2 separate regions of the Homo sapiens genome follow, and region 2 is linked to region 1. The links come from fine-mapping of genetic effects on gene expression. A gene starts in region 1. The other region holds a variant in brackets. All regions are shown on one strand. Distances are between the middles of the regions.

Region 1 (16,818 bases):
TGTATGGTAAATAATAATTCTGTTAACATTTAATATTCCAGTGTGCACAATTGCTTTATAGTGAGGAAATTATTTTAAACTATATGTGTTTTTAAAATCAGCAGAGCTAACAACATTATACCTAGGGCTGTTCAATAATTAATAAATGGGCTGGGCATGGTGGCTCACGCCTGTAATCCCAGCACTTTGGGAGGCTGAGGCAGGCGGGTTACCTGAGGTCAGGAGTTCAAGACCAGCCTGTCCAACACAGTGAAACCCTGTCTCTACTGAAAATACAAAAAAAAAAAAAAGTCAGCCGGGCATGGTGGCAAGCACCTGTAATCCCAGCTACTTGGGAGGCTGAGGCAGGATAATCGCTTCAACCCAGGAGGCGGAGGTTGCAGTGAGCTGAGATCATGCCATTACACTCCAGCCTGGGCGACAGAGCGAGATTCCGTCTCAAAAGCAAGCAATCAATCAATCAGTCTGAATAAACTCTCTGGTTTAACTCTCTTAAACTCTCTGGGTTTAACAGCTCAAAGTTTGGTGTTTTAAAAGGAAATATTTATCTTTTATCAGAAATGGAGCCAGGTATTGAATTTAAAGAGCCACACAATCTGAAATTCTTTATGTGGATATAGATGGAAAGAAAGAAATAGTTCTTGTTTTTACTGAACAGTAAACTAAGAATAAATAGAACTAAGAATAGTTCTGGTTTATTACTGTTTTTGCAGTTAGATTTTTTCACCAATAATAATTCAATAGCAGTTTCTCTCATAAATATGTGCTTTTTAAAAAAAAGTTTCCTACATTTTAAACAAGATTTTACTCTTAAAACTAATTTCTGATTTTATAGTGAAAATTTTCAGATCTCTCCCTTTAATCAACTTTTAAAGAACTCAGTTTTTATAAATGAAGGCTGCTTTTGTCAAATTGGAATTTGGATATACAGAGCTAAATAAACTCTTAATTTTAGTAGGTCAGATTTTCTTTGCTTTCTTATTGCCCTTTTATATTTTACTAAATATACAGAAAATGTACCTTTGAAAATATTTTTACTATTTTGATTGTAAAAACTTACTCTTTTAGAAGACTGGATTTTGTCTGATAATAATATCATGGAGAGGGGCCAAAAGAGGATTGTGATGCCTGTGACTTTCATGTTGCAGACCTGATAGAAAAGAGAGTATTTTCATTAAGGACATTTTTATTTTTCCCTCTTTTGAATCTGTTTATTCTTTTTTTTTTTTTTTTTTTTTGGCTGAGACAGGGTCTCACTCTGTCACACAGACCTGGTGGCATGGTCACAGCTCACTGCAGCCTTGATCTCCCAGGCTTAAGCAGTCCTCCCAACTCAGCTTCCTAAGTAGCTGAAACACAAGCATGCACTACCATGCCTGGCTAATTTTAAAAATTTTTGTAGAGATGGGGTCACCATGTGTTACTCAGCCTGGTATCAAACTCCTGGGTGCGAGCCATTTCCCCCCAGCCACTGGCGTGGCCTTGAAAAGTGCTGGGATTATAGATATGAGCCACTTACCCTGGCCTTTCAAATCTACTTTTTCTTGAAATACATAAAATGTGAAACAAGTGCATGGCCATTCACCATCCTTGCACTCTGATCTTAATAAACTAGAAAGCCCCTTTGAAGAATGAGACTGATTTCTATTTTTTCTTTTTAGAGAAAATTAATATTTTTAAGTGTGTCTCATTAGTTTCTAGATCTCATGAAAGGAGCTTTAAAGCAATTTAAGTGGTTGTAAATTTTAAAAATTTAATATAGAAGTGCACAAAAGAAATTCAGGAAAACGTATATTTATGCATGTTTAAGTATATGCTTATATTGATGGTCTTGATTTTTTCAATTTTAGGCATTATCTATTGGCATTATCTATCTATTATTCTTGACTTAAAACTGTGGGAGATGAGAATCTTTAGCACTCTTTTTCCCCCCATGGTAACTTTTAAAAATTTTATTGAGGCGTGGTAGATATACATAGTTTTGGGGTACATGTGATAAAGTAGTGCATTCATATAATTTTTAAAGATCAAATTAATGTACTTGGGATATCCAACACGTTAAATATTTGTCTTTTCTTTATAATGGAAACATTCAAATTCTCTTCTAGCTGTTTTTAAATGTACAGTAAATTAGACGAGAGGGAGAGCATCAGAAAATAGCTAATGGATGCTGGGCTTAATACCTAGGTGACGGGTTGATCTGTGCAGCAAACCACCGTGGCACATGTTTACCTATGTAACAAACCTGCATAACCTGCACATGTACCCCGGAACTTAAAAATAAAAGTTGAAGGAAAAAAATTACTGTAAACTATAATTACCCTACTGATCTAACACTAGGCCTTCTTTTTTTAAGCAAACTGTATGTTTGTATGCATTAATAAACTTTTCTGCATTCCTCCCTCCCTACCACCCTTTCCAGCCTCTGGTAACCACTAGTCTACTCTTAATCTATATGAGGTCCACTTTTTTAGCTCCCACATGCCGGTGAGAATGTGTGATATTTGTCTTTCTGTGCTTGGCTTATTTCACTTGACATAATGACCTCCGGTTCCGTTTTTGTTGCCGCAAATGACAGGATTTCATTTGTTTTTATGGCTGAATAATATTCCATTGTATATATATGCTACTTTTTTTTAATCCATTCATCTGTTGATGGGCACTTAGGTTGATTCCATAGTTTTGCTCTTGTGAATAGTCCTCCAATACACATGGGAGTGCAGCTATCTCTTTAATATATTCATCTCTTTTTTTTAAATGTATACCCAGTGGAATTACTGGATCAAATGTAAATGTAAGTGTTATATTTTTAGTTTTTTAAGGAACCTTCATACTGCTCTCCAGAGTGGCTATACTAATTTACATTCCCAAGAGTGTATGAGGGTTCCCCTTTCTCCACATCGTCACCAGCATCCGTTATTGCCTGTCATATTGATAGAAGCTACTTTAATGGGGGTGAGATTATATATCATTGTAGTTTTGATTTGCATTTCCCTGAGTGATTACTGATGTTGAGCATTTTTTCCACATACTTGTTTGTCTTTTGTGTGTTTTTTGAGAAATATCTATTCAGTTCTTTTGCCATGTTTACTTGGATTATTTGTTTTTTATCGGTTTGTTTTTGGCTAGTGAGCTGTTTGAGCTCTTTATATCTTCTGATTATTAACCCCTTTTTAGATGGGTAGTTTGCAAATATTTTCTCATTCCGTGGGTTGTCTCTTCACTTTTTTGATCATTTTCTTTGCTGTGCACAAGCTTTTTTGCTTGGCGAAACCCCATTTGTACATTTTTGCTTTGGTTTCCTGTGCTTTTGAGGTCTTAGAGACACAAAAAAATCTTTGTCCAGGCCAGTGTTCTAGAGCAATTCTCCAACGTTTTCTTTTTTTCTCTTTTTTTTTTTTAAATAAAGAAAAGAGGTTTAATTGACTCAGTTCCACAGGCTGTACAGGATGCACGTCTGGGGGGTCCTCAGGAAACTTACAATCATGGTGGAAGGTGAAGGGGAAGCAGGCATGTCTTACATGGCTAGAGAAGGAGGAAGAAAGAGCAGAGGGAGGAGCTACACACTTTTAAACAACCAGATCTTTTTTTCTTTTGAGACAGAGTCTGGCTCTGTTGCCCAGGCTGGAGTGCAGTGATGCCATTTTGGCTCACTGCAACCTCTGCCTCCTGGGTTCAAGTGATTCTCATGCCTCAGCCTCCTGAGTAGCTGGGACTACAGGCATGTGCCACTTTCATGCGGGTCCATGTGAAGAGACCACCAAACAGGCTTTGTGTGAGCAACATGGCTGTTTATTTCACCTGGGTGAAGGTGGGCTGAGTCCGAAAAGAGAGTCAGCCCTCCAGTGTTTTCTTGAAACAGTTTTATAGTTTGAGGTCTTATTAAAGTCTTTAATCCATTTTTATTCCTGGATATGGCAAGAGATAGGGGTCTGGTTTCATTTTTCCATATATAGTTATGCAGTTTTTCTAGCACCATTTATTGAAACAACTATTATTTCTCCATTTTATGTTCTTGGCACCTTTGTTGAAGATGAGTTGATGTAAATGTGTGTATTTATATCTGAGTTCTCTATTCCATTCCATTGGTCTATGGATCTGTCTTGATGCCAGTACCATGCTGATTTGGTTACTATAGCTTTGTAGAAAATTTTGAAGTCAGGTAGTGTGATGCCTCCAGCTTTGTTCCTTTTTGCTGAGGGTTGTTTTAGCTATTTGGGATCTTTTATGGTTCCATATGAATTTTAGGATTTTTTTTTCTACTTCTATGAAGAGCGTCACTGTATTTTGATAGGAATTGCATTGAATCAGTAAATTGCTTTGGTTAGTATTGATATTTTAGCAATGTTCTTCCACTCCATGAACATGGATTATATTTCCATTTTTTTTTGTATCCTCTTCAGTTTCTTTCATCAGTGTTTTACAGTTTTTGTTATATAGATATTTCACTTCATTGGTTAAATTGATTCCAAGGTATTTTATATTCTTTGTAGCTATCGTAAACAGGCTTGCTTTCTTGATTTCTTTTTCAGATTCTTCACTGTTGGCATATCTAAATTCTACCAATTTTTATATGATGATTTTATATCTTGCAACTTTACTGAATTCAGTTGTCAGTTTTTACAGATTTTTTGTGGAGTATTTAGGGTTTGTTTTTTTTTTAATTTTTTAAGTGTAAGATCATGTCTGCCAGGTGCAGTGGCTCACGCCTGTAATCCCAGCACTTTGGGAGGCCGAGGCGGGCAGATCACCTGAGGTCAGGAGTTTGAGACCAGCCTGGCCAACATGGCGAAACCTCATCTCTACTACAATTACAAAAATTAGCCGGGTGCAGTGGCAGGCACCTGTAATCCCAGCTACTTGGGAGGCTGAGGCAGCAGAATTGTTTGAACCTGGGAGGCAGAAGTTGCAGTGAGCCGTGATCATGCCACTGTGCTCCAGCCTGGGTGACAGAGTGAGACTCTGTCTCAGAAAAAAAAAAGAAAAACTAATCAGAGTAGGCAAGAATCCATGCAGCATACTAAAGTCTCTCGCCTCGTTAGCAATAAGGAATTTACTGCTATTTTAGTGCTAGTCTGTTCTAGTCAACTTCCTCATTGCCTTTGATTTGTTGATCCATTTATGCACATTCCCCTTCTACCTTTTCTCTTTCCATAGTTAAATGAAATTTGTTAGGAAAAGCTACTCTGCCTCCTATATTTTATAAAATTTGGATGTAGATCATAATAGAATCCCTTTTAGAGCCAGAAGTGCATTTAAACTATCACTTATTCAAGATGATTGCCCATAGAAGAGGGATGCCTAAATCATTTACAAAAGGTAGTTTACCTATGTTTAATGATTTATAGGAATAGGTGTTCAGCTCCTTCAATGGCTTGTTTCAGTATTTCTCAATGATGTGGTGAAATTCTTACTGATGTCTCTAGTAGGCTGCAGAGGTGACTGAGGAGAGGTGGGTAAGGGAAGTGCTGTTTTTTTTCCAGAAACAAATAGGATGGGGATAGTGAAAGAAAGCAAATAGGCTACAAAGAAAATGAACTAGATTTAAGTTAAAAGTTGATATGAAATAGAAGCAGGTGAAAAAAGTAATGGAGGCAAGACAGGACTGTGAGCTTATGTGGAAATGGAGACGGAGTATGGTTTTATATTTATTATCTGTATCTGCTATTTAATGCTAATAATTGTTTTCTCAAGTGCGCTAAAAGAAAAAAATCATAAGGATTAGAAAAGGATTTTTTTTCCTTTCCATTGGATAGATCTTGGAAGCAGTGTATACTCAGCTCAAGGTAGATTCTGTACAAGAAAGCATTCAACAAATCTAAAGCATCGTTAGGTCTGAAGCTGTGAAATACATTGATTGATCCATACTATCTGTGAGAGTTTTCACATATTTGTGTGCCTTTTCAGAGGAGAAAGATTGAAAGAGGGGGTGATGTCGATTATCATGACACTGAGTAAGTCCCCAGACAAAGCATTTGCTAGCATTATTGGGTGTCTTTAAAAAAAGAAAATCAGATACGCAGAATAGCTGGCCAAGTAGATTATGCAGAAATTATCCATCAGTCAGTTTAGCCTGTTTCAACAGTTGGTTTAAAAGGAAGTCAGTCATTGTTGCTTTCTTTCTCCTTTTGGAATATTTTCTAATTTGGATTTTTTTTGAAATGATAGTTGAGTTTCATATAGTGATTACTTAGGAGCTAATATAAAATAGAAAACTGGAATAGAAGATGGAATATCAGTTTCTTTTGTTATTTCACAAAATTACGTGCATTTTTACCTAGCATATGATCTACGTTACTGAAAAAAAAAGAGCTTTACTCAAAGGAAATGGTAGATACTGAAAAAGAAGCATTGTTCTTAATAAAGTTTCAAGTACATGTTTCTTAAGTTATTTACTTTATATGATTATTATATGCTATGAAATAAAGAGATGCTGTAATTATTTTGGTTTTGTTAAAATCTAAATGTAGTTTTTCCATTAAGTATTTTAGATATTTATGCCAGAATTCAATGTATTTAGAGAATGATGTTAATAATACACAATTAACTTTGTTTCCTTATTTAACTATTGTGTAGATTTTTTTCAGATTTAAAACCTTTTTGTAATGGAAAATTTCAAGGAAAAAACCTAAGTAAGAAGAATAGTTATCAGCCTGCTTCAATAATCATCAACTCATGGCCAGTCTTTTTTTTATCTTGCCAATTGGCTTTTAGATTAGTGTCACTTCAGAATGCTCTGTGATTAACATATTTTAAAATAAAAATTCTTATAAATTTGATTGGCTAGATGAAACCATTTCCCCCCCCGCCCCCCGCAAAACAATTACTTAGTATTGTATTCTAACTTTATTTAGGAAAGACCCTTTGGCCATGTCTCAGGTATATAGTATTTTTGAGGTAGACCATGTGAAAATATAATCATATTTTCTTATTTTTCATCACTTCTTAAAGGCAAAGATGGTTGTACAGACTTAACAAACTTAAATATGATTAAAAAAAATACAACAATAACCAAAGCTATAAATATACATATCTTACCTTTTTTTCTTTTGTCTCTAAGACTTGTGTGCTAAAGGAAATTAACTCTGTTTCAACGGCATTAAAAAAAGTACATCGTATGATTACATTTCACTTTGTTTTAACCTTTGTACCCAGTGAACAGGTGATTTAAAAAAAAAAACTAGACTTCCTTAGCAAAAGATTGACTAGAAGAATAATTTCTTAAAGTCATCTTTTCCTTTTTTAGTATAACAAGTAAGGCTGTTTGCCTAACCTTTGTGTTTCTTTCTTTTTTTTCTTTTTTTGAGATGAAGTCTCGCTCTGTCATTCAGGCTGGAGTGCAGTGGCATGATCTCGGCTCAATGCAACCTCCACCTCCTGGGTTCAAGCAGTTCTCCTCCCTGCCTCAGCCTCCTGAGTAGCTGGGATTACAGGCTCCCGGCACTGCACCTGGCTAATTTTTGTATTTTTAGTAGAGATGCGGTTTCACCATGTTGGCCAGGCTGGTCTCAAACTCCTGACCTCAGGTGATACCCCTGCCTCAGCCTCCCAAAGTGCTGGGATTACAAGTGTGAGCCACTGCACCCAGCCTACCTTTGTGTTTCTTAATTACTCTTTGAAAATTTTATTAAAGTATTAACAATTTTACTTACTGATTTAGAGTTTACAATATTGAAAATGCATACTTTTGAAAGATATACTGTTGCTAAATTAATTTATGTTTGTCCTGATGGTATTTTGTGCTTAGAAGCATTCAAACTGAGGTCAGGTGCAGAGTCTGACACCTGTAATCCCAGCACTTTGAGAAGCTAAGATGAGAGAATAATTTGAACTCAGGAATTTGAGACCAGCCCGGCCAACTTAGCAAGACCTTGTCTCTACTCAAAATAAAAAGTAAAAACATTAGCAGGGCATGGTGTTGTGTGCCTTTAGTCCCAGTTACCTGGGTGGCTGAGGTGGGGGGATGGCTTGAGTTTGAGCATGCAGTGAGCCATGATTGTGCTACCACAGTCTAGTCTGGGTGACAAGTGGTACCTGTCAAGAAAGAAAGACAGAAAGAGGGAGAGGGAAAGAGAGAGAGAGAGAGAAGAGAAGAGAGAGGAGGGGGAGGGGAAGGAGGAGGAGGAGGAAGGGAAGGAGGCAGGGAGGGAGGAAAAGGAAGGAAGGAAAGGAGAGAGAGAGAAAAGAAAGGAGGTAGGGAGGGATTCAAATTGTAAAGATACCACCAAGTTTTGTATTCTATTGAGTTTCAACGTTTTTGTTTACTTATTATTGTGTGTTTTTTTTTTTTTTTTTTTTTTTGAGATGGAGTCTCGCTCTGTCACCCAGGCTGGAGTGTAGTGGCGCAGTCTCGGCTCACTGCAAGCTCTGCCTCCCGGGTTGACGCCATTCTCCTGCCTCAGCCTCCCAAGTAGCTGGGACTACAGGCGCCCACCATCACGCCCAGCTAATTTTTTTGTATTTTTAGTAGAGACGGGGTTTCACCATGTTAGCAAGGATGGTCTCGATCTCCTGACCTCGTGATCTGCCCGCCTCGGCCTCCTAAAGTGCTGGGATTACAGGCATGAGCCACCATGCCCAGCCTGTTTACTTACTTTTATGACACCATCATCAGTGGTTTTACTGCCAAGTTATAACAGGAGCAAAGTACTCAAAGCATCAAAAAGACCTTACACCTGGACATCATATGGCCTTTAGAAAGTCAGTTACTTTTCTTATGCTGTAATTTCTCCTCTGTAAAATGGAATACTTTATAACATTAGTTCTCATCTTCCTACATTGAAAGAAGAAACACTGTTGGTAGTCAGTAATCAAATTTAGAATGAATTCCTTCCAAAAGATTAATTCCACTGGGCTTCAGTATCCTTAATTTATGAAAATAGATACTTTCCTTTCAATTTCTTTGAGCTCATATACCTATACAAATTGTAGCAGCAGGAAACACATTTGTTTTACTGTTGTAATTGAAGCTCCAAGTGAAGATACCACTTCTTCTCCAACAGTGAAACAAAAATAAATTGAAATTCCAGGTTGCTTTACTATGTTCATCTTTTATTTGGTTATTTTGAGATTTTTTTTGGTAGGGAAATTTCTGAGTTTAGGTTGTTTATTCTAGTAGTAGGATATGAATGTGTAGAAGGTGTGTAGGGGATATGTGGATCCACAAGCTTAGCTGGTGATTGTGAAAACTATAGAAGTTGGTATCTATGAGCGAAAGAGAGTAAATAGTGATAGGTTAATCAGATTTTGAAACTCAAAATAGAAATTAATGATCTTGGGAGTGAAAATGTGTGTTCAATCCAGCTTTTTATAAAATGTAAATCTTGAAAGTATTTAGATAAGTGGCATCTTACCTATTCTTTTTTCAGAGTTTTTCTCTACCCTATCAATAATTGACCTTGCCTAGGCAACAAGTGACATGTCATTGGTATTTCTTTTGATTACGTGATAAAAATGGTTATTGCTTCTAATTAATTTCACTATTACTACTTTTATAGGATTATGTTTGTAATGTTTATTGTGTTTTTAGAGAAATGAGCTTAATATTTTACAATGCTAAAAAATAGCAAAAATTTGTGAAATAGCAATGTTAACTAAAGCAGTAAGTAAAAGAGAACTTAAGCAAAGCATATTATTAATCTAAAGCCATAACTAAAAAATCAAATTGCACTGCAGGCCTCTCTACTCCCTAGTTCTGTCAGAGCCACACTGGATGATTTACACGGGAAACTTCTATACAGTATTTAATTTAGTCAGAAAAACTTATGGCTAAAGGATGCTTTAAAACCACAATTCTAAAACTTATTTGTCTTTTTTTTTTTTGAGATGGAGTTTTGCTCTTTTGCCCAGGCTAGAGTGAAGTGGCGCGATCTCAGCCCACTGCAACCTCTTCCCCACTGGGTTCAAGCGATTCTCCTGCCTCAGCCTCCCAAGTAGCTGGGATTACAGGTGCCCGCCACCACGTGTGGCTAATTTTTGTACTTTTAGTAGAGATGGGTGTTTTGTCGTGTTGCCCAGGCTGGTCTCGACCTCCAGACCTCAGGTGATCCACCTGCCTCAGCCTTCCAAAGTGCTGGGATTACAGACGTGAGCCACCGAGCGCAGCCTCTTATTTGTCTTTTGAAGGTATAACTTTAAAAAAGTATAAATGCATCCTCATATATATAAGTCATTAAGGATTTTTTGGTAATCTTTGTGATTTCTTAGTAAAATAAAATGGAGAGTAAGGAAATAGAGGAATTTAGGGATGGAGAAGAGAAAGATGTAAAAATAAGTTTGTGCTAATGGGGCCAAATTTTATATAGGTCAAATAGCATTTTTTAGTACAAATATAAAGACTTTTCAGTCACACACTGTGGTTGAATGTCTTTAAGTATCCTATTAAATTAGGACCATGACTTGTATAAAATAATTGGATATTTTTTCCTCAATATAGTATCAGGAATATTACGTGCTTCTGATTTTAGGAAAGAAAAACAAATCAGAAGTGTCGAAGAAGAAATTGAACAGGAAAAACAAGCAACAGATGACATTATCAAAAATATGTCTTTTGAAAACCAAGTCAAGTACCTAGAGATGAAAACCACAAATGAGAAACTGTTACAGGTAATACAAATTACTGCTGTGTGCCAAGCATGTATCATTCTTGCTACTAAAAGTATAGTTTGAATATCAGCAGCATCAGCATCCCCTGAGAACTTGACTATACTTTGAGATCAGTTTTCATTTTAACAAGGTCCCCATCTGATTCATACGTATATTCACATTTCAGAAGAATTTATTTAGAAAACTTCATTTTCATCTGCTGTTTGATGACCTAGCTTTTACTCTTATTATTTTTGGTTTACTTCTATTTATTCATTTTGCATTTCATAAAGACATGAAAATACTCGCATTTATAAAAATACTTGTCTATAAATATTTGCATTTATAAAAGTACTTTTCTATAAATGTTTGCATTGATAAAAATACTTGTCTGTAAATTAAAAAGTCTGTAAATACTTGCAGTTACAGACTTTTAATGCAAACATTAAAAGGCCTCATAGGTGGAGGTTGCAGTAGTGAGCTGAGATTGCACCACTGCATTCCAGCCTGGGCAACAGAGCGAGACTCTGTCTCAAAAAAAAAAAGGCCTCATAGACCAGATCCATATATATATTTACTTTCCTTTTCCTTCCTGCTTAATAAACAGCTAACCTTTTTACCTGTTAGCATTATGATTTGAATGGCTATTGTCCTGTAATTATATTGCCTAAATTTCCATTTTTAAAAATTAATTTTTTTATTGATACACAATTGTACATATTTATGGGGTACATGTGATATTTCCATGCACGTATGCAATGTATAATGATCAAATCGGGATAATTAGGATATTCATCACCTCAAACATTTGGCATTTTTTTTGTGCTGGAAACATTTTTTTTTTTTTAATTTAAAAAAAATTTTTTTTTTGAGACGGAGTCTCGCTCTGTCGCCCAGGCTGGAGTGCAGTGCCCATCTCGGCTCACTGCAAGCTACGCCTCCCGGGTTCATGCCATTCTCCTGCCTCAGCCTCCCAAGTAGTTGGCACTACAGGCGCCCGCCACCACGCCCGGCTGATTTTTTGTATTTTTTTAGTAGGGACGGGGTTTCACCGTGTTAGTCAGGATGGTCTTGATCGCCTGACCTCGTGATCCGCCTGCCTCGGCCTCCCAAAGTGCTGGTATTACAGGCATGAGCCACCGCGCCCGGCCTTATGCTAGAAACATTTTGAATCTCCTTTTCTGGCTATTTTGAAACATACAATTAATTACTGATAACTATAGCCACCCTAGTGTTCTATCAAACATGAGAATTTATTCCTTCTCTCCCCCACACCACCCCATGCCCCCAACTGGGCACCACCTTCTCAGCCTCTGGTAACCATCATTCTACTACCCCCTTTTTTTTGTTTTTTTTTTTTTGTTTTTTTTGAGACGGAGTTTCGCTCTGTCGCCCGGGCTGGAGTGCAGTGGCGCGATCTCGGCTCACTGGAAGCTCCGCCTCCCAGGTTCATGCCATGCTCCTGCCTCAGCCTCCTGAGTAGCTGGGACCACAGGTGCCCGCCACCACGCCTGGCCAATTTTTTATGTGTTTTTAGTAGAGACAGTGTTTCACCGTGTTAGCCAGGTGATCCGCCCCCCTCGGCTTCCCAAAGTGCTGGTATTACAGGCGTGAGCCACTGTGCCCGGCCGAGATCCACTTTTTTAGGCTCCTACAGATGAGTGAGAACATGCAATATTAAATAAGCAATTTAAGTCCCTGTTGAGGGCATATTGAGAATCCTCTCAATACTCAGTCATGGTGGTTCCCTTTCATGCCCAGATGGCCCTTAACTAAAGATTAAGCAAAGAATTAGGCCCCATAAATGCCAATAATGATTATAGTTTTAGTTTCTTAGACATTCCTTTGCTGACAATTTAGTAACCTTTTTATTTTAGAGAAGATTTCTAAGATACTGTGAAGCGTTGAAGAAAAAGTATGGCCTGGCCAAGATGGTGAAACCCTGTCTCTACTAAAAACACAAAAATTAGCCAGGCATGGTAGCAGGCCCCTGTAATCCCAGCTACTCGGGAGGCTGAGGCAGGTACTTGGTTGATCCCGGGAGGCGGAGGTTGCAGTGAGCCGAGATCATGCCACTGCACTCCAGCCTGGGCAACAGAGCGAGACTCTGTCTCAAAAAGAAAAAAGAAAGAGTATGATAGAAATGCCAAAATAGTACCAAAATATAGTTAATCTTGTATGGGATAATGAATGAGTAAACAGTTTAAGGATCTTATCTTAGGAGTGAACCATATTTATATTTACATATACGTGTATGTATGTGTACATGTGAACCATATTTATATTTACATATATGTGTATGTATGTGTGCATGTGTTATATGTGTGTGTACACAGTATAGAGAAATTAGGCAAAAGATGTGAAAACACGGTTACAAATCAAAATTTTAAATAATAATCTTAAACAATGACATAATTTGAAAGCTTCTGATATTTGATGTCTCAGAACATAGTGATGATTCAGTGTGAAAAGGTCTAAGGTCTAGCTACTTTTGAGAAACTCATGAAGTTTTTTTTTTTTTTTTTTGAAGGCACACAGCAAGTTTTTAAGAATAATGAAAGAAGTTGGGAAAAATAGAAATAATGAAGTGTTAATAAATTCTAGTCAAAATGTAAGATGCCAGTGAAGATATTTAGAAAATTTACTTAGTCACTTTGAAATGTTGAGAAACAGAGAAATAAATTTTTTTTCCCAGCTCCCTCCCCCCACTACAACAAATTATTCTTAATGTAATTTGGATTTATGTTTGCTTTTTTTTTTCCACTTAGGAATTAGATACACTTCAACAACAATTGGATTCACAGAACATGAAAAAAGAGAGCCTGGAAGCAGTAAGTATAAAATCAAATAAGGGTTCTCATACTACTCAGCTAAAAAAGTTAATTCAGCCAAGTATATTAATATAACTAATTCAACTACATATTGATCTGGCAGCTTACTAATAGGAGTTTAATACTTTTTCTTCCTATTCTGGACCCACAAAGATCCTAGTATGGTAAGAAATTAGATTCAGTTATTGAGTACCTACTATGTATAAAACAAATCATTCCGCCCTACCTAGGACATGCAAAATCCAATAGCAATTAAAAAAATTATTTTTTTAGAGACAGAGTCTTTCTTTGTCACTCAGGCTAGAGTGCGGTGACATGATCGTAGCTCACTGTAAATTCAAGCTCCTGGGCTCAAGCGATCCTCCCTCCTCAGGTTCCCAAGTAGCTAGGACTTCAGGCAGGAACCACCACACCTGGCTAATTTTTTTTTTACTTTTTGTAAAGACAGGGTCTCGTTATGGCTGATGTACAGCTCCTGGCCTCAAGCAATGCTCCTGCCTTGGCTTCCCAATGTGCTGGGATTACAGGCATGAGGCATTGTGCTCAGCCTCTAATGGCAATTTAAAGACACATACACAAGAGATTATAAAAACAAAGAAAGAGGGAGAGACATGAGTTCATCTCTTTAAGGATGTAAAAACTTACTTTTTTTATTCATTTATTTAAAACGCTTTATTTCACAAAACAAAATGTGCATATGGTTTAAAAATAGTTGAACAAGAGGAAAGTAAAAATGTCTGTTTTTTTTTTTTTTTTTTTTTTTTTTTAGACAGAGTATCGCTCTGTTGCCCAGGCTGGAGTGCAGTGGTGCGATCTCGGCTCACTGCAAGCTCCGCCTCCCAGGTTCACGCCATTCTCCTGCCTCAGCCTCCAGAGTAGCTGGGACTACAGGCACCCGCCACCACACCCAGCTAATTTTTTTGTATTTTTAGTAGAGATGGGATTTCACTGTATTAGCCAGGATGGTCTCGATCTCCTGACCTTGTGATCCGCCCACCTCGGCCTCCCAAAGTGCTGGGATTATAGGCGTGAGCCACTGCGCCCAGCCAAAATGTCTGTTTTGTGTCCTTCTTTCCAGATAGAACTACTGGAAAGACATTTATCAAGTGCTTACTGTATGCTTTTTTGAGCTGTAAACACATATCAGCATCATCTTCATGTAATCCCCACAAGAGTCCTAAATCCCATCTTGGTTTTACAGTTGTGGAAAACCTCAAGTGGGGTTCCTACGTGCTATGCTAGCTGCAGCTTTCTTTTTTCACCCTAACATTGTATCTACAGTGTCTATTTATATCAGTTCCTAGAGAACCTCCTCATTATTTTAAATTGCTACAATGTATTATGTTGTATAATTATAACACAGCCTTGTAAATGAACAGGTTGTTTATAGTTTTCCGGGATTATAAACAATACTCCTGTGAAAGCATACATTTTATGCGAAGTTATATCATAAGATTGAATTCTCACAATGGGTCAAAAGGTATACAGTTTAAAAATGTTGTCAGATTGCCAAATTGCCTTCAAAAAGGTTGTTCCAACTTTTACTTCTAGATGTAATGTATGTGAATGCTTATTTCCCCTGCATTCACTGACAGCAAATATTATCTGACTTTTCCAGTTTTAGCTATTTTGATAGGTAAAAATTACTACCTTATTTGAATTTTCATTTATTTATGAATAAAGTTGAGTATCTATTTATATCATTTTTGGCCAATGAATTTCTTTTTCTTTGAACTCCTTTTTCATATTTTTGGCGTTTCAGTATACTGTCTGTATCTCAAATCTTGCCTCCCTTTCCTGATTTCCTGTGGATTCAGGTAGACATCATGATGACAGTATTAGGAACTGTTGTAGACTGATAGATTGCTGACACCCTAGCTTGCAAAAGAAATGAGTATTTTGTAATTAATTCTTTTGAGAATTTGCTATTGAAAAAGTTATTTAATTAAAAATAGTAAGGTAGTTGGCTGGGCGTGGTGGCTCACGCCTGTAATCCCAGCACTTTGGGAGGCCAAGGCAGGCAGATCACAAGGTCAGGAGATCGAGACCATCCTTGCTAACGTGGTGAAAACCCGTCTTTACTAAAAATACAAAAAATTAGTCGGGCATGGTGGCAAGCACCTGTAGTCCCAGCTGCTCGGGAGGCTGAGGCAGAAGAATGGCATGAACCCAGGAGGCAGAGCTTGCAGTGAGCCAAGATCACGCCACTGCACTCCAGCCTGGGCGACGGAGCAAGATTCTGTCTAAAAAAAGTAAAAAAAAAGCAGGTAGTTTTCTGTGTCTGGTTGTCCATCTATAAAGACACTTAATTTTTATTTCCTTGGATCTCTGGTGATGGAAATACGCTTAAAGAAAGAAGGACCACATTTAGTATTAATACAACCAGCTTGCAGAATTCCTCATGGTTCTTTTTTGGAGTGGGTTTGAGAGAGTCAAGTCTTACTTCACTTGGTGAATTTGGTTTCCATAGGAAAAATCATAAGCTATAACCTTAGATTTACTTTTTGTACTGATGCCGTTCTTCTCTGATGTCAGTACATTTATGCCTAAAATAACAAGAGTTTTAAAAATACACAATATGTGCAAATTAAGATAACATGTCACTAATTCTATTTAACTTTTGCCAGATTTCTTTCTTTTTAAAAAAAAAAATTTTTTTGAGACAGAGTCTTGCTCTGTTGCCCAGGCTAAAGTGCAGTGGCACAGTCTTGGCTCACTGCAACCTCCGCCTTCTGAGTTCAAGCAATTCTCCTGCCTCAGCCTCCCGAGTAGTGGGATTACAAGCGTGCATCACCATGCCCGGCTAATTTTTGTATTTTTAGTAGAGACAGGGTTTCACTGTGTTGGCCAGGCTGGTCTTGAACTCCTGACCTTGTGATCCACCCGCCTTGGCCTCCCAAAGTGCTGAGATTACAGGCGTGAGCTATCACGCCCAGCCCAGATTTCTTTTATTTATTTGTTTAGGACTTGTTCTTCAAGAAAATACCTGTCAGATAGTGGTCAATCAACTAGTATTTTTTGAATACTTTATGTTCACTGCTGTACAACGTATTAGGTCATGCTTATTCAGTTCACAAGAGTGGAAAAAATCAGGTGAAGGATTAACATGAGCTTAAGTCTTCCAGAACAATTTTATCAAGATGAAATTCAAACAAATCTATAGGATTGTTAGGCAAAAAGGAGACGATACTATGAAAAAGGATAGCATAAAATATCTGCATTTCTTCTATGTCTTTTTAGCATGGCTTTTTTTAATCTTATCTGATGCCTAATCTGTTACTTGAACTGTATATATAATCCATTGCTTATGGACTTTGAAAAATTATCTCGTCTACTCGTTCCTTTTTTGGAGGTTCCTTCTTTCATACTTTTAGAAGAGAAGAGGTTGGCCAGGCACAGTGGC
Region 2 (16,818 bases), 150 kb after region 1:
TATCTGTCGTTTGGAAGCACACAGGATTTTTTTTTTAATTGAGGCGAGGGAATGTGATCAGACAAGCTACTTCCCAAATAGGTGGCACACAATCACAGAAATAATTCACATATGGCCTGGAAGACAATAGATTCCAAAATTGTAGTAAAGCAATTCCTAAACTAAATGGTACAAGGCTGGAGGGCCTCTGAGCCCTCTTCCAGTACTGAGCTAAGAATATGTCCCCTCTAGTGAGCTGGAGAACTGTGCTTCAGAACCTAGAGCTCCTGTCCTGTTCGAGAGGGAAGAAAAGCAACATATAGGGAGGGAAAAGAGAATTCTTGGAGCAAAATATTGGGAGAGTATATTTCATTGTCAGGTTGAACAAACAGAATTCCACAAGACAGTGTTGCCAGGAATAGAATATCGACTGTGCACACACTTCTAAAGATGAAGAAAATGTAAGTGGGGGTTCTTGGGCTTAGAGACACATATGTGGGCTCTTTGGGTTAGGTTAGGTGAGTGGTCTCCCTGAGGTTCAGCTGGCAAAGACCCAAGAAGCAACTTCTTAAGCTCATCTCCAAATAGCCCCCTGATCTCCCCAAGGCTGCCACCACATTGCCAGGCTGGTTGTGAAACTGCTTTTCCAGAATTGCTTGCACGTGCAGAGAACTGGTCTCCTGTTAAGGTCAGCCCTGTAAAAAAGGGGGCAAGAATCAAAGGACTCTTGAAGGAAACACAGGAACTCTTCCTTAGCTCTTGATCGGCCTGTTTCCTGCCCATGTGGGTTTGAAGTGTGAGGGAGGGTAAGCACACAGCAGGACACAAAGCCATGAGCCGTCCTTCCTTCTAAGGGTGTCTTAGCTCCAAGATGACTTTAAAAACAGTCTTCCTCTGGGGATGACACAGGCCATAATTTCACACAGATTTACTTGATCAAACTGGCTTTGTGCCATGATAATACCAATAGTCCTTTACACAGAAATCAATGATTTAGAAGCTATCACCCTGTTTTACACATGAGGAAACTAAGACAGAACTTCAAGACCAAAGTTCTTAATGACTCCACTGTCCTGTTAATCATGTCAGGCAATTAGTAATTCACAAAATAGTCACCTGGGTTTAAGATGTATTACTTTCAGTTACTGCTAGAATTGTTCCAGTTCAACTCATACATATTTAAAATGAGTAGTCTGTCAAACACAGTGCTTGGTGCTGGGGCGTTGAAGACAGAAAGCTCATTGTCTAAGGAAGAAGACAGACATGTCAATATTTAATTAGAACAATGTCATTAGATTGATTAGTTGTGTGTGCCTTCCTATAAATAAAAATCTTTATTTTAAAATTATAGAGGAAATGAAATACAAAACTAAGCATGCAAAGCAATAAGTGAATATCTTCTATGGTGCTGCTTCTCTCAGCCCCCATGTGCCTGCCAGTTTTATCAGCAACAGGTAACACTGTTATCAGGTTGGTGTATGACTTCTAAGCTTAGATGTCATCGTACTGTTCTACATCTTGTTTTCTTCACTTTATATTTCAAGGCTCATGCAAACTTATAATACCCTATTACATGTATGTACCGTTATTTATTTAGAGATGCTTCTGTTGATGAACTTTATATTGTTTACAGTTTGTGGCTATATGCTGCAATGAATATCCTTGCCATATCTTTGCATATTTTTACTGGTAAATATGAAAGATACATTTTTATTATAATTGTTAAAGTTAATATACAGTATAATTGGCTTTTGTGTGTATACAACTCTATGAGTTTTAACACATACACTCATGTATCTGCCACTAAGAACAGCGATCAGGATACAGAATAGTACCATCACCCCAAAAATCTTTTTTGTGCTGCCCCTTTGTAGTCAGATTTCTCCCAGCCCTAATCCTTGGCAGCCACTCATCTGGTCTCATCCCTACAGGCCTGCCTTTCTTAGAATGTCATATAAATGCAGTCGGACAGTAGGTAGAAGATGATTTTAGCTTCTTCACTCAGCATAATGCCATGTTGCTGCAAGTAGCAATAGGTTTTTTCTTTTCATTGTTGAGTAGCATGGATATACTATAGCTTGTTTATGTATTTATCCACTGAAGGATATTTGGGTGCTTCCAGTTTGGGGTGATTATGAATAAATAGAGCTGCTATAAACATTCTATTTTTTTTTTTTTTTTTTTTGGCGGGGGGGACGGAGTCTTGCTCTGTCTCCCAGGCTGGAGTGCAGTGGCGTGACCTCGGCTCACTGCAAGCTCCGCCTCCCGGGTTCACGCCATTCTCCTGCCTCAGCCTCTCGAGTAGCTGGGACTACAGGTGCCCACCACCACGCCCGGCTAATTTTTTGTATTTTTAGTAGAGACGGGGTTTCACCGTGTTAGCCAGGATGGTCTTGATCTCCTGACCTTGTGATCTGCCCGCCTCGGCCTCCCAAAGTGCTGGGATTACAGGCGTGAGACACTGCGCCCGGCCAACATTCATTGTATGAATGTACATTTTCATTTCTGAAGGGTAAATGCCTACAAGTGGGATTGTTGGGTGATACGTAAGTGTATGTTTAACTTTATAAGAAATTGTTAAACCAATTTCCACAGTGGCTATACCACCCATTTTAAATTACTTCCATCAATGGATGAGAATTGCAGTTCCTACACATTCTCTTTAGCACTGGGTATTATCAGGTTTTCTTTTTTCTTTCTTCTTTTTTTGTTTTTTGATCTGTTCTAATAGGTTTGTAGCAGTATCTCATTGTGGTTTCACTTAGCATTTCCATAATGTTTAATGATATTAAACATCTTTTGTGCTTATTTGCCATCTATACATTTTCTCTGGTGAAGTGTCTCAAATCTTTTGCTCATTTAAAAAAATTGAGTTGTTTTCTTACTGTTGAGTTTTGAGAGCTTTTTATGCATTCTAGATGCAAGTCATTTGCCAGATATGTGATTAGCAAATATTTTCTCCCAGTTCATGGTTTGTCCTTTTATTTTCTTAACAATGTCTTCCATAGACTAAAGTTTTAAATCTTAATAAAATTTAGCGTAACAATTTCTTTTTTATTCATGGTGTCTATGACAGCTAATTTTTGGTGTCATAGCTAACAATCACTTTCTAACTCCAGTGTCATGAAGATTTTCTTCTATATACCTAAAGTTTTGTATTTTAATGTTTTACACGATGTATTTTTAGTGAATTTTTGTATACATGGGTGGTTTTAGGTTAGGGCTCTTTTTTTGCATATTGATGTCCAAGTGTTCCAGTATTATTTGTTGAAAACAACTTCATTGAATTGTTAGACATTTTTGACGTGAGATGGTGTAATATAGTTTAATTGTTGAAAGAATGGAGTGAAACCAGTCCACCTAAATTTCAGTCTCAGCTCTGCTACAAATTAGCTGTGTAACAATCACCAAGTATTTAATCTTTCTTTGTCATAGTCTCCTTTTCTGTTAAATGGAAACAGTCATAGTACCTACTGCCTAGATTGCTATGAGGATTGAGTTATTATGTGTTGACACACTTAGAGTAGTACCTGACATAATAAGTGATGAATTAGGGTTAGCTTTTATATAACTTTTCAGTTATTGTAGATATTGCGAGCACGTCCTGTAAACATGTTTTACTAATTACACTGCCCATCAACAATATAGATGTTTCTATTCAACAGCCAGCACCAGATATTATGACCCTCTCCATTCTTTGACAATTTGATAGGCAAATAATGAGATGTCTTTTTAGTTTGTATTTTGAGATCTGTGGTCAGGTTAAACATCTTTTCAACTTTTCACATGTTGTGAGTATATCAGCTTTTGATGAGTAACAAGGCATCCAAAACATAATGGTAAAACAGCAAACATTTATTATGACTTATGCTTCTGTATGTCATCTGGGAAACTCTTTGGCTTAAGCTGGATTGGTCTCTCATCCTCTAGCGGGTTAGTCTTGGCGTCTCCTCATGATGGCCTCAGGGTTCCATAGAGCAGCAGCAAGAGTGCAAGCCCAGTGGGAGAGCCCAGTGGGCAAGCACTTTTCAAGCCTCTGCTTATGCCACATTGGCTAATCCTCCATTGATCAAAAGAAGTCCCATGGCCAAGCCTAGATTCAAGAGATGGAGAAAGAAACTCCACTTCTTGATGGAATGAAATGCAAAATATTGTGACCACTTTTTCATGAATCTACTGCGACTGGCTGTTTGTGTTTCCTTCTCTGTGAATTGCTATTGGTTCAACGACTTATGAAATTTCTTTATATGTTATACATATTAACTCCTTAAGTTTTACATGTAACATACGTTTTACATGTAACAGTATTTTTCTACTTGGTCATTTAACTTCATTTATATAATCTTTTGCTGTATAGAAGGTTTTGGCTTTTTCTGTGATAAAATCTATCAGTGTTTTTTCTTCATGACATTGGATGGCCAGAATGTAAGCTTTTTGAAGGCAGAAACCATATTTTATTTTTTATTATTTTCTTGACCCACAGAAAGCAGCACAGAGCCCAGCCCATAGTAATAAAGGTTTATTGAATGAATGCATTCACTGAAGGCCAATCTCACTCACTCATTTATTTATTTATTCATTCATCAATGTTTATGGAATACCTATTATAAACCAGGCATTGTGCTCATTGTTAGAGATACAGCGATGGGCAAAATTGACTTTTAGATGGTGTTTAGACTAAAGCATGGTAGGTAGTAATGGAACTTATTATCAATGAGACATAGGTTCAAATTGTATCTTTCTACTTATGTGACCTTGGGCATATCCCTAAACATTCCTGAATTTCAGGGTTTTTTAACCTATAAAATTGAGTGTAAATGCTTTCCTTCAATAGTGTGAGAATTCAAGTGGACAATGTTTGTAAAGCACTTAGCATTGTGTTTATTATGTATTATATAATAAAAATTGTCAGCTTCCTTTTCTACATGGTATAATCTCAGGCCTACTAGGAAGGCTAGGTGACTTCTTTTGTCAATCTCCTCTTAGCAAATATAATCCTGAATTTCTTCCATTATAGACTCGTTTCTTTGATTTGCTCCTCCAATCGTTCTCCGTGAATTGTCACTTTGAGCAATTCTTGCTTATTCTCCTCTTTGTGCAGGCAAGTCAGTCAAATTGCCTTCTCTGTTGGGAGCAGAAGAACAGGGCACTGAGGAGACACTGAATTTTGTTCAGTGCTGTCTTGGAAGATAGATATGCTTGGTTGTGGGTGTGGGTATGTACGTCTTTGAGCAGCATAAGGGTAGTTGGGAACTTGGCAGGTAATTGAATCAGGAGAAGAGCCCAGAAAAAGGTGGTCTGGTTCCAAAGATGCATTTTTCCCATACCGGGTATCCTGGTGCTGATAAACACAGTGCATTTAGAGAGCATCCCACTCCTGAGACAAAGTGAGTAGGGAAGATGATGAGGCAGCACTGCCAGGCTTAAGGGAATCTGTAAGGTGGCCAAAACTCCTCTCTAGATATTCTCAATTTCTCTGTCCTGTACCCTTTCTAGCTTTTTAGCCACCTCTCCTCAAAATCTTTTTTCTCTTCCCCCAATTTCTACCAAACTCCAGGATTCTCCAGGCGCCCTCCTGCCAGATGTATATACATTCCATATTCCCTCACACTAAGGACTTGGCTGTTAACACTGCTACTCTGGGGTGACAGAAAGGGCCCTGGAGAGAAATCAGCACTTGAGGGCTGGCTCTACCACTACCCTTTGTGCAATCACCAACTGGTCTCTTTTCTATATGCCTCAGATTGCCTGTTATAAAGTGTAAGGCTTGGCCAGGCATGTTGGCTTATGCCTGTAATCCCAGCATTTTGGGAGGCCAAGGCAGGAGCTTCACTTGAGCCCAGAGGTTCGAGACCAGCCTAGGCAACACAGTGATACCCCCATCTCTACAAAAAATTTAAAGATTAGCTGGGGGGAGGGGTGTTGCATGCCTGTAGTTCTGGCTATTCAGGAGGCTGAGGTGGGAGGATAACTTGAGCCCTTGAGTTCGAGGCTGCAGTGAGCAGTGACTGTGCCACTGCACTGCAGCCTGGGTGACAAGAGTGAGACACTGTCTCAAAAAAATAAGGTGTGAGGCTTGCACCAAGCAGTCTGTAAAACCTCTTCCGGTGTAAACAATCCTTGATTTGATGGAACCATGCTTCCTGCACCCCCACTGCCTCACAGAATGGAGTTTGCATATAAATGAATGTTCAGTAAAGTCTCGTTGTGTGGATGCTCTGTCTGTTCCCTGGAAATAAAAAGTTTCCTGCCAGCTGACTGATCCTCATTCTAACTAACACATGTGTTATTTGGCCTAGATGGAAAATTTCCGGCGTTTGAAGGTGGCGAGAGGATGTCATTCCCTCCAGCAGACAGACAAGGGTGCCATTTGGCTGGAAAGCAGGGATGGGAAACGGGCATGGCCTTTGGGGAAACTGGCTTGGTACAACTCCTGGGTGAGCACAGGAGTTTGTTGTTAGAGAGTCACAGCCCAGTCACATCCAGGATGCCCCTGGATAACTCTGAACTCCCAGCTATACAATAAAAATGTTAGCAACTTCCTTTAGTTATTTCCAGTCTTGTATATTTTGGTATCTTCTTGTTAGCTGCCCAATATCTTCTTGGAAGGAATCTTGAGGAAGAAGTTATTGCTCAGAGACTTACTACATACACAAAAGGAAGACAGAGAATAAAAAAGGATTAAAGTGTTGGAAACATGCCTGGGAACTGGATTTCTTCATGGGAGACAAGAAGGCAGAAAAGATACTGAAAATACTTTAACATAAGGGTTGACACAGAGGAATAGTGCTGGTAGTTCTTAGGGCCCAACAGAAAGAAATTAATAGCAACTTTAAGATAGAGAAAGAACATTCTAGAATTGAGTCCTACTAAAAACTCATTTTTGAAAAATGAGTAACTACTGCTCAGTAGTTACCATTTTGGGGAAGATTTTTCTGATTATCTTCTCATCTCTCTCTTGCTTTGCCTGGCTAACCCCAACTTTCCTTTAGACTAAAAGTCCACAAACCCTCCTTCAAAACAGTCAAGTCTGATAAAGTTTACCATTATGGTGTCTCATAAGCATCTTGTAATTCTCTCTCTTAGTACCTGTCTGTATTTATGTGTTTATGTGATTAGTTTTCCATGTCTGTCTCCTACATTTGCCTATAAGCTACGAGACGGTTGTATATTCACTGCTGTGTCTCCAGGGCCAAGTGCAGTACTGGGCACAGGGGAAGCATGCAATAAGTCTGCGTGGTAAGTGAATGAATGGACACATAAACAACTTAATGAGTGCTTTTTGAACTGAAGATAATTTTTCTTTTTCAGGACAGCAAAAACAAAAAACCTAAACTAAAATCCAAACAATTTCGCAAAATATCCTGGATAGTTTGGGAGTTGTCTTTGCTTCTTTGGCTCATTGCCACGGCCTTAATTCCAGAAATGCTTTTGACTCAGACCTTTTCAGTTCATTGCCAGTTCCCTGATTTCTGAAATGCCTTTGGCCAAGGAAGTGCTAATTGGTATTTCAAATATTTAGAACTTTAAGATACCTACTTCTGTTACAAAGATGAAATTACCATGAACACCTTTTGAAAAATTTAACCATAGCTAATACCAAATTTCCAAAAAACCATACAGTGACCATACAGTTAGTTGTTCTGAAGACATGACGCATTATTCCAAACACACCTTAGCAGAATTCCACCCAATACTACAATTCTGAGGTAGTAAGAAGCACAAGGGAATAAGCCTGCGATGCAATAATTTAATCTGCCTAAAATTGTCTCCTAGCTTGCCAACACTTCGAAGATCAGGGAACTGGGTAAATCAGGACTTGATTTCATCTGCAGCTGTATGTGAACTGGAATGTGGAAAAAAAAAAAAAAGCTAATTGGAGCAAGCATGTTGTGCTGCAGTGGAGTGTATTTTCATTGATATGTTTAACCTTTCATCCCCTTCATCTGTGAAAAAATGAAAATTGCTGACCTTTGAGGTTTTATGTTTTTAATTAAGCAAAATTTTTTTCTTTCAAATAAAATCTTATATGAAGCCCCCCCGCCGCAAAAAAATAAAATAAAATAAAGTTGAGTAGCTCACTGGGAGTGGGTGAGGGTGTGGGTCTAGAGTCCATTCTGTTGATTTCACCTCTTCCACTCTCAGAAACTTCTGGAGCACCTTTTTAGAACATGAGAAATTACAGTTTCTTTAAACACAGTTTAACATGGCTCTGTCTCTAATTTCTAATGTAATTAAATTCTATAATATGGGTGTTGATTCAGGCCCACAATAATTTCCATAACTATTTTTAAATAAAAATATTCCCATGTCTTAGTTAATGGCTCATTATTCATAGCAATATTGAATACAAGAAAATGTAAATATAAAAACTAGAGTTAAACAACATTTTGAGTTCACCATAATAAGATTTAGTGAGAAGACGCTACTAAGAAAGATTAGATACTGTTCAATATAGAACACAGAAAATACAGTGAGCAAAACATTTTAGAGGATTGTTA[T/A]GCTTCACTTGTGATGCTTGGTTGTTAACTTGGTAGACGTCATGCCACAATGCCAAGTAGTTCCTTATAAACAAGGACACACTTTTATGCAAACATTGAAAAAGTGTTTGAGGCTGGGCGCATGGCTCACACATGTAATCCCAGCACTTTGGGAGGCCGAGGCGGGTGGATCACGACGTCAGGAGTTCAAGACCAGCCTGGCCAACATGGTGAAACCCCGCCTCTACTAAAAATAGAAAAAAAATTAGCTGGGCGTGGTCGCGGGCACTTGTAATCCCAGCTACTCGAGAGGCTGAGGCAGGAGATTCTTTTGAACCCGGGAGGCGGAAGTTGCAGTGAGCCCAGATCGCACCATTGTACTCCAGCCTGGGCGACAGGGCGAGACTCCGTCTCAAAAAAAGAAAAAGTATTTGAGAGATCTTTGTTAAGGAAAAATAGCATTAATCTCTAAAACTTATAAGATGTATGATATTAAATATGCATCTTGTTTCAGCAAATTATTAGCCTTCATGATAGAAGTATGAATTAAACTATTAATGAATTTGATCAGAGCCTTTTAGATATGGTTGTGATGAAACAACTCACTATCCGTCCCCAACATGATTTGGAGAGGATAGCGCTATAATGTAAGAAAGGGTATTAAGCAGAGAGATTGATATTGGTATGAGCCCAGATAGGATCTGTCTTCTGGCAATGATTCTCAGGAAATGTCTCTATTAGAAAATGTCTTGAGTGGCACCAGATATGCAGTGGCAGCCATGCCTTTCATGGTGTCAGCAGCAGAACTCTTTCAAGAAGCCACGGACCACAGTTGTACTCGTTGTCGTGGAGCCTCTGCTCTATTCTTTCTGAAAGGCTGTTTGGCTACTTTTTTTTTCAGCATTAAGTTTTAACTCCTTTATTTTTCAGCATTGTGAGATAACATCACATTTCCTATTATTAGTTCAAAGAAGAGAGAAAGAGAAAAATGCATTATTTGGATGTAATTTGAAATTTGGAGTAGATATAGGGCTGAAGGATGAGACATAAAGGGACATATATGTCCATGGCTCTTGATTCTTTTCCAGCTGCCATTTTTTTCTCTCTCTCTTTCTGTCTCTCTTTTATTTATTTATTTATTTTTATTACACTTTAAGTTCTTGGATACATGTGCAGAACGTGCAGGTCTGTTACATAGGTATACACATGCCATGGTGGCTTGCTGCACCCATCAACCTGTCATCTACATTAGGTATTTCTCCTAAGGCTATCCCTCCCTGACCTCAGGTGATCCGCCTGCCTCAATCTCCCAAAGTGCTGGAATTACAGGCATGAGCCACCGCGCCCAGCCTCCAGCTGCCCCTTTTTAAGAAATGGGCCATAACACTTTTTTTTACGTTTAATTTTTATGTGTGAATAATAGTCAAATTGTTCAAAAGCCAGTACACACAAGCATATAGGGAAAAGTCTTCCTTTTACCATTGTGCCCCAACTACCCAGTTCCCCCGAATAGGTCATCGTTGTTCTTCTTTTTATGTGTCACCTTCTAGAAATTCTTTAGGCAGATACTAGCAAATACAACTATAGATTCTCATTTTAAGAAAACTAAGCAGGTGATTTTCAAGACTCATCCTAGGAAGCTGGTAGGTATGTCTTCTTATACCCAAAGCTCACATAGAAGATCCTTCTGGTACTGTAAATGGGGTTACAAAGGACAGAGTACTGGCTGGTGGAAGAGGTCTTCCTTAACCGGCATGCTGAACAAGGGTAGCGAAGTATAGTCAAGTCCAGACTCCCAGAGGCCACAATTTCCTTTTCCGTCACTGAAAGTAAAGGGAGATCTCTGAAAGGAGCAAGAGGAAAAAGAAACTAGATACATACCTAGAAATAATTTATACATAGCTTGGTTGTCTTTTCAAATCAACTGCATTTTGTATTATTTCCTAAAGCTATTAAATAAACCACGGCCACTGCCACCGCTGGGAGCTCAGAGCAGATCCTGTGGTTTTGGCAAGACTCTTGACTGGCCCTAGAAATGGGGCTGGATTGAACTGGAGTTGAAAGAATTACAGTGTTTCCTTCCTCTTGATGACTCTTTCTGGAACATGCCTGGAATGTGTGAGTGTGAGAGATGAAGTGGTGTTCACTCAGAGTCAGGCCTGGGTATGTACGTGGAAGGGGAGGTGTGTGCTGGTGTTATTTTTGGAGGCTGTAATTCCACTGTTAGGCTTTGTAGCTCGTCGTCTCTTTCAATGTTTTTACTATCCTAACTTGTATTCTCTGTCCTGAGATCTTAAAAGTTACCAATGAGGCTAGAAGTAAAATGGATGCTTCAAGGCCAGGCTTGGGAACTCATTCTAGTGGAGATTTTCTCCCTCAATCTCATGTAATGAGTTAATATTACAATAAAATGCAGGTGTAACTCCTGCTTACACGAAGACTTGACTTTGAAATTTTTCTTTCTAATCATTCAGATAAAGGTTTAATTTGTACCAAGATTATCCTCAAAACATCACTGAATACAGTAAACACTGGCAATTGCCATTAAAAACAAATTATATGAGGACTTTATATCAGGTACAATGCTTGACATAAGTAGGTGCTCAAAAATTCTGGTAAATGAATATTAGCCTTAAACGCTCAGCAGTCATTGGTCACTTTTCTTTGGCATTTTGTAAAAATTGTAATGTTTTTTTCCCCAAAACATTGGGAATAATGTTTTTTTGCCCCAAAACAGTTAAATATGGGCAAGGAGGTCAGTTCAGACTCGGGGGAGCACTTTTGTTTTTTTTTTTTTTTGAGACAGAATTTTGCTCTTTGTCGCCCAGTCTGGTGCGCAGCACTGGAACCTCTGCCTCCCGGGCTCAAATGATTCTCCTGTCTCAGCCTCCCGAGTAGCTGGGATTACAGGCACCCACCACCACACCCAGCTAATTTTTGTATTTTTAATAGAGACAACGTTTCACCATGTTGACCAGGCTGGTCTCAAACTCCTGACCTCAGGTGATCCCCCTGCCTCGGCCTCCCAAAGTGCTGGGATTGCAGGCATGAGCCACTGTGCCTGGCCCGCACTTTCATTTTTAACCTTATTATTCTAGAATTGGAAGCCGAGCAAATGGATGGACTTCAGTCAGGCAGATCTGAAATAAAATTTGCCCATCCATCCATCCCATTCATCCATACACTCATCCAACAAATACTTAAGTCCTCTATATGTTGAGATTACGGAGAATATTCCATTGTAAACCAATTCCTAAATTCCTCTTCCTATACAGAACATTTGGAGTTTATCATTTAGAGGGAGAGTAAATAAAATAATCACAAATTATGGTAATCTGTATGAATAAAACAGGAGGCCAAATTAGAGGTCAATGGGATGAGAGTGTATAGGTATTATAGATAAGGCAGGTAGAGAAGCCTTCTATGAGAAAGTGGCACTTAAGCTGAGACCCAAAGGACAAGCAGAAGGTGGCCATGCCAAGAGTGGAGAAAAACATTCCAGGCAGAAGGAACAGCAAAGGCTTTGAGGTAGGAAAGAGTATCTTGTATCCAAGGAATCAAAGACCAGTGAGCATTTGAATCCCAGCTCTGCCTTCAATAGCTGTGGAAAATGAAACTAGCTGCTCAATCTTTTGAGCCTTCATTTCTTCATATTTAAAATTGAGATAATGGTGCATACCTCACAGAGTTGCTGAATTTAATGGGTATTCAATAAGATAACATGTAGCTTATTTGAATCACTTCTACACAAAGGTCTCTGAGACTCTAGTTGGGCCCTCATCACTCAATTGATTTTTCTAGTCTCCTGATTGTTTTATGCACATTTGAGAGCCAACCATCACTGGAGCTAGAGAACATTTTCCATCCCTGATATTTCCACATTTAAAGAGGAGAGAATAGACACAGACTCTATCTGCTCATGTTAGAACCTTTAGAAATCAAAAAAGGGAGGGGTGGGGAGGGGAGAGAGAGAAAGAAAGAGAAATAGTGAGAAAATAACATGAGAGGATTTTCTTTTTAAAAGTGTACTTCCTCATTTACAGAACAAATTCATAAAATTTAAAGTTTGGGTAAGGTTTTGTTTTTGTTTTTACATTTGGGGAGAGGGTAAGGTTTGGGGCTAAGTGTTCAGGAAACAGAATAAAGAGAAATGAAATAATAATCACTGAGTATGCAATATATAACAGACAGAGTGGTTGGCAAGTTATGTATTTTATCTTATTTAATCTTTACAAGAATCCTGATGGAGTAAATGAGGCCCTGAGGGAAATGAAGACTTCACTTAGTCACTGTCTGTCACTTATCTTGAGGTATTTAATGTGGAATTGTGCAATTCTTTAAAAATGAGAATCTATAAGGCATAAGTTTATGTAGTTGATATATTTCTTTAGAATACTTTATTATTGTGACAGTATCACATTAGCATCAATTGATAACTAATAGTTAAATGAATAATGATAATGTCATTATTATTAATTCATCTTAATACTACATACATTTCCTGAATACCCAGCTATGTCTAGTGCATGGCTTGTTGGGGGAATAATGGGTAGTCCATTGCAACTAGGGTATGCAGTGGGGCAGGAGAGGTTAGCAGGGTCTAGCTGATGAAGGGTCTTGATGCCTTGGTAAAGAGTTTTGGATTTTGTCCAGTGGAAGATAGGCACATGGTCAGAATAGCATTTTAGAAAGAATCCTCACACAACTTTAAGACAAGGCTTTGTGAGCACCAGTTTACCCAATGGGGTCATGTTAATAACCTTAGTCATACATTATTGTCTCTCTTTCCTTTTAGGAACTGTGGAAGGTGCCATGGACTTGATCTTGATCAATTCCCTACCTCTTGTATCTGATGCTGAAACATCTCTCACCTGCATTGCCTCTGGGTGGCGCCCCCATGAGCCCATCACCATAGGAAGGGACTTTGAAGCCTTAATGAACCAGCACCAGGATCCGCTGGAAGTTACTCAAGATGTGACCAGAGAATGGGCTAAAAAAGTTGTTTGGAAGAGAGAAAAGGCTAGTAAGATCAATGGTGCTTATTTCTGTGAAGGGCGAGTTCGAGGAGAGGCAATCAGGATACGAACCATGAAGATGCGTCAACAAGGTAACATGCCCCTAAGTTTTGGGCAGGTGAGGCCCACTGAGGAACACACACACCTTTTGTCTTGGCAGCTGCTCCCTCAGGGGCAGGGCATGCACTACCTGAATGTAGAGCTTGACGATCTTGCCTGTCTCTTTCCATGCATCACCGTGTCTGGTACATGGAATGTTAGAGATAAAGGAGACTACCCAGTCCAACCCCTTAACTAGATACTGTGCCTACTTTGTGAGATGAAATATTTCATATGTTCTAAGGGCATCATGGTACTTATGGATAGTTGACTGTTACATGTATGTAATATGAAAATCATAGCAATGAAAACAAGTGTTCATTGCCAAACTACTATTTTGAGCTTTCTTATTTGATTTTTCATGTGATACATTGCTTTGCTTGTCCCTAAATACCCTTAATGGAAGTTAATATTTTCAGGAGAAAATTAAATATAAATAAGAATTTTAGAAGGGGAATATCCATCAGTAACTTAATTTAATTAGTTATTTGGTATATCAACTTTCTTTTCCTTTTTTTTTTTTTTTGGGGGGGTGGAGTCTCACTCTGTCACCGGACTAGAGTGCAGTGGCATGATTTTGGCTCACTGCAACCTCCGCCTCCCGGGTTCAAGCGATTCTTCTGCCTCAGCCTCCCAAGTAGCTGGGATTACAGGCAAGCACCACCACACCCAGCTAATTTTTTATATTTTTAGTAGAGACAGGGTGTCACCATATTGGCCAGGACGATCTTGATCTGTAGACCTCGTGATCTGCCCGCCATGGCCTCCCAAAGTGTTGGGATTACAGGCGTGAGCCACCATGCCCGGCCAGTGTATCAATTTTCTATTGCCACAATAATGCTGTGTAACATAACCACAAACCACAGTGGCATACAATAATGAGCATTTATAGCTTGTGAGTCTAAGTCAGCTGTGTTGATTAGATGGATGTATTGACCTTGGTTGGGATTCCTTACATATATGGTGTTGCCTGGCTATAGGCTTAGTAGGCTGGCCTTGGCTGGGGCAACTTTGCTCAGTTCCTTATACTATAGCAGGCTAAGGTAGTATAAGGTCATAGTGTACAATTCTCAGCTTAGGTTGCCAGGAGCCTCATGTGTTTCTATTTTTTTGTACCACTGCCATCTACATTTCATGTACATGAGATGTAGACATGAGGCTCTTTGCAACCTAGGCTCAGAATTGTACACTATCACTTCTGCTTCATTTTATCAACCTAAGCCAGTTAAGTAGCTGAGCCTAGTATCAGAGTGAGAGGGCACTACAAACTGAAATGACAAAGAGTCAGGGATACAGGGAGGGATGAAGAATTAGGGCCCTCTTTGCAGGCTACCATTTTTGGAAAAGGACCATGATTTAATTTTAGCAGTCGAGTACCCAGGTCCAGCTCAGAAAACACCAGAATTTTGCCGGAGGATTTTGAAAGCCTCCTCTAAGGGAGGATTATTAAGACTTGCTACCACCCCACAAGGTGATGATGTGATGAAGTCTTCCTCCCAAAATAAAAGTGGGCCTTAAGCTAAATCTTTAGACCAGTCCACCTGTGTGATGGCAGTTGAAGGAGATGGTGTTGCAAATATTATTTAATAATTGTATTATAAGGTTCCAGTCCTGGACAGGCAGGCAGACTTCTGGTGCTCTTGATGCTGTCTGCTGGGAGGAAGGTACAGAATTCCAGCTAAGGTGACCTCTCTTTGTTCTGCCTGGAATGATCTGGCCTCTCCCCTATCAGCCACTTTGTCTGGGCTGCTGATTCCTAAAATGAAGGAGTCTTTTCCAAATTAGTATCATCACAACCACAGGAGCTGTGGACTGAGGACTTGTCATTACATAAAATAATGACATTGTCAGCTGTTTAGGGTTTTTTTTTTTTTTTTTTTTTTTTTTTTTTAAAGACAAGGGTCTTGCTGTTGCCCAGGCTGGAGTGCAGTGGCACAATTACAGTTCACTGCAGCCTTGACCTCCCGGGCTCATGCTGTTCTCCCACCTCAGCCTCCCAAGTAGCTGGGACTACAGGCATGCACCACCATGCCTGGCTAATTAAACGAATTTTTCATAGATATGGGGGTCCTGCTTTGCTGCCTAGGCTGGTCTTGAACTACTAGCTTCAAGCCATCCTCCCACTATGGCCTCTCAAAGTGCTGGGATTATAGGTGTGAGCCCACCAGGCCTGACTTTTAGAAAGCTGATCCAGTTAAGTAACACACCTCTGCACATTGCTGATTGGCTGTTTCTTTTATAATCTAACCATCTGTAGTCTGCATTTTTTTTAGATCAATGCTTTTTAAAGTTGAACATGCTTACAGATCACCTGTAGTTCTTGTAAACATGCAGACTCTGATTTAATAGGTTGTTTGGGACAGTCCTGGGATTATGCAGTTCTACCCAGGTCCCAGGTGATGAGAATCTGCTCGACCATGGACCACGCTTTGAGTAGCAGTTTAGAGTTAGCCTCTAACTTGGGTCCAGCTGAAAATATTTCTTTGAATTTACTAATGGTAGTAATGAAAAGATTTGAAGGCAGCAAACTCATTTTAAGGTCAAAAGTAATAAAATTGCTGTTCATTCCAAATGAAGGAAAGGGTTTTCTTAGCAAAACTAGAATGTTCACCTTTAAATGACAGCAGGGCAAGTGGGAAAAGTGCACAACAGAAATTCCCAGGAATGCAGCTCTCCGTTGAGGGAAGAGAGGTTGAACAAAGGGATGTGAGGTGTGCCAAAGCTATCATGGCTGAAAGTCAGCTCTATTATTTTTCACATGTGTCATTTTGGATTTGACTTGTATAAAGACTAATATTCTTCTGCTGATGTTTCCACATTCTAAAGGAAGATGATCTGAGATTATGCCCCAGTCATTTCGTGGGAACAAAATGTGAAGTGCCACTGTGTCCTTGCTGTACTGTCCTGAGGTCATCCTTGACAATGTATAAATAAGAACATGTAAAGCAAACTGGACCAGAACATTGGGAGTTAAAAACCCGCTGTAATGATCCCCCCAAACTGAGAGGCTAGGTGATCACAGGTAAAGGATGGCTTAACTTCAGTTAAATAAGGCAAAGGCAGACCTGGATAGTGAGAAACACTAACGAGAAGATGGCTTTTAGAATTATGCTCACTTGAGTTTTAATTCGTTCTCCATCACTCACCAGCTGTGTGGCCTTTGGCAAGTTATTTAACTTCTATTGGTCTCATTTATCATCATCTGTGAAATGGGTATAATAATACCTACAAAATTGTTTTGTTTT

Evidence for each region.
Region 2: its variant is fine-mapped to the expression of LRRC19 in lung (TOPMed, PIP above 0.99).

The regions. Positions count from the first base shown.
Region 1 is chr9:26,998,554-27,015,371 of GRCh38, forward strand. LRRC19 (leucine rich repeat containing 19) reads right to left here and starts at 7,119. Exons shown (of 5, transcript NM_022901.3): 1 at 7,039-7,119; 2 at 1,061-1,150. The coding sequence starts at 1,141. IFT74 (intraflagellar transport 74) reads left to right here. Exons shown (of 20, transcript NM_025103.4): 9 at 10,467-10,605; 10 at 13,353-13,415.
Region 2 is chr9:27,144,577-27,161,394 of GRCh38, forward strand. It overlaps TEK (TEK receptor tyrosine kinase), which reads left to right. Exons shown (of 23, transcript NM_000459.5): 2 at 13,255-13,566. Among named protein-coding and RNA genes, the nearest start is that of TEK, 44 kb to the left of the region's middle. The variant T/A (reference allele first, on the strand shown) is at 8,481.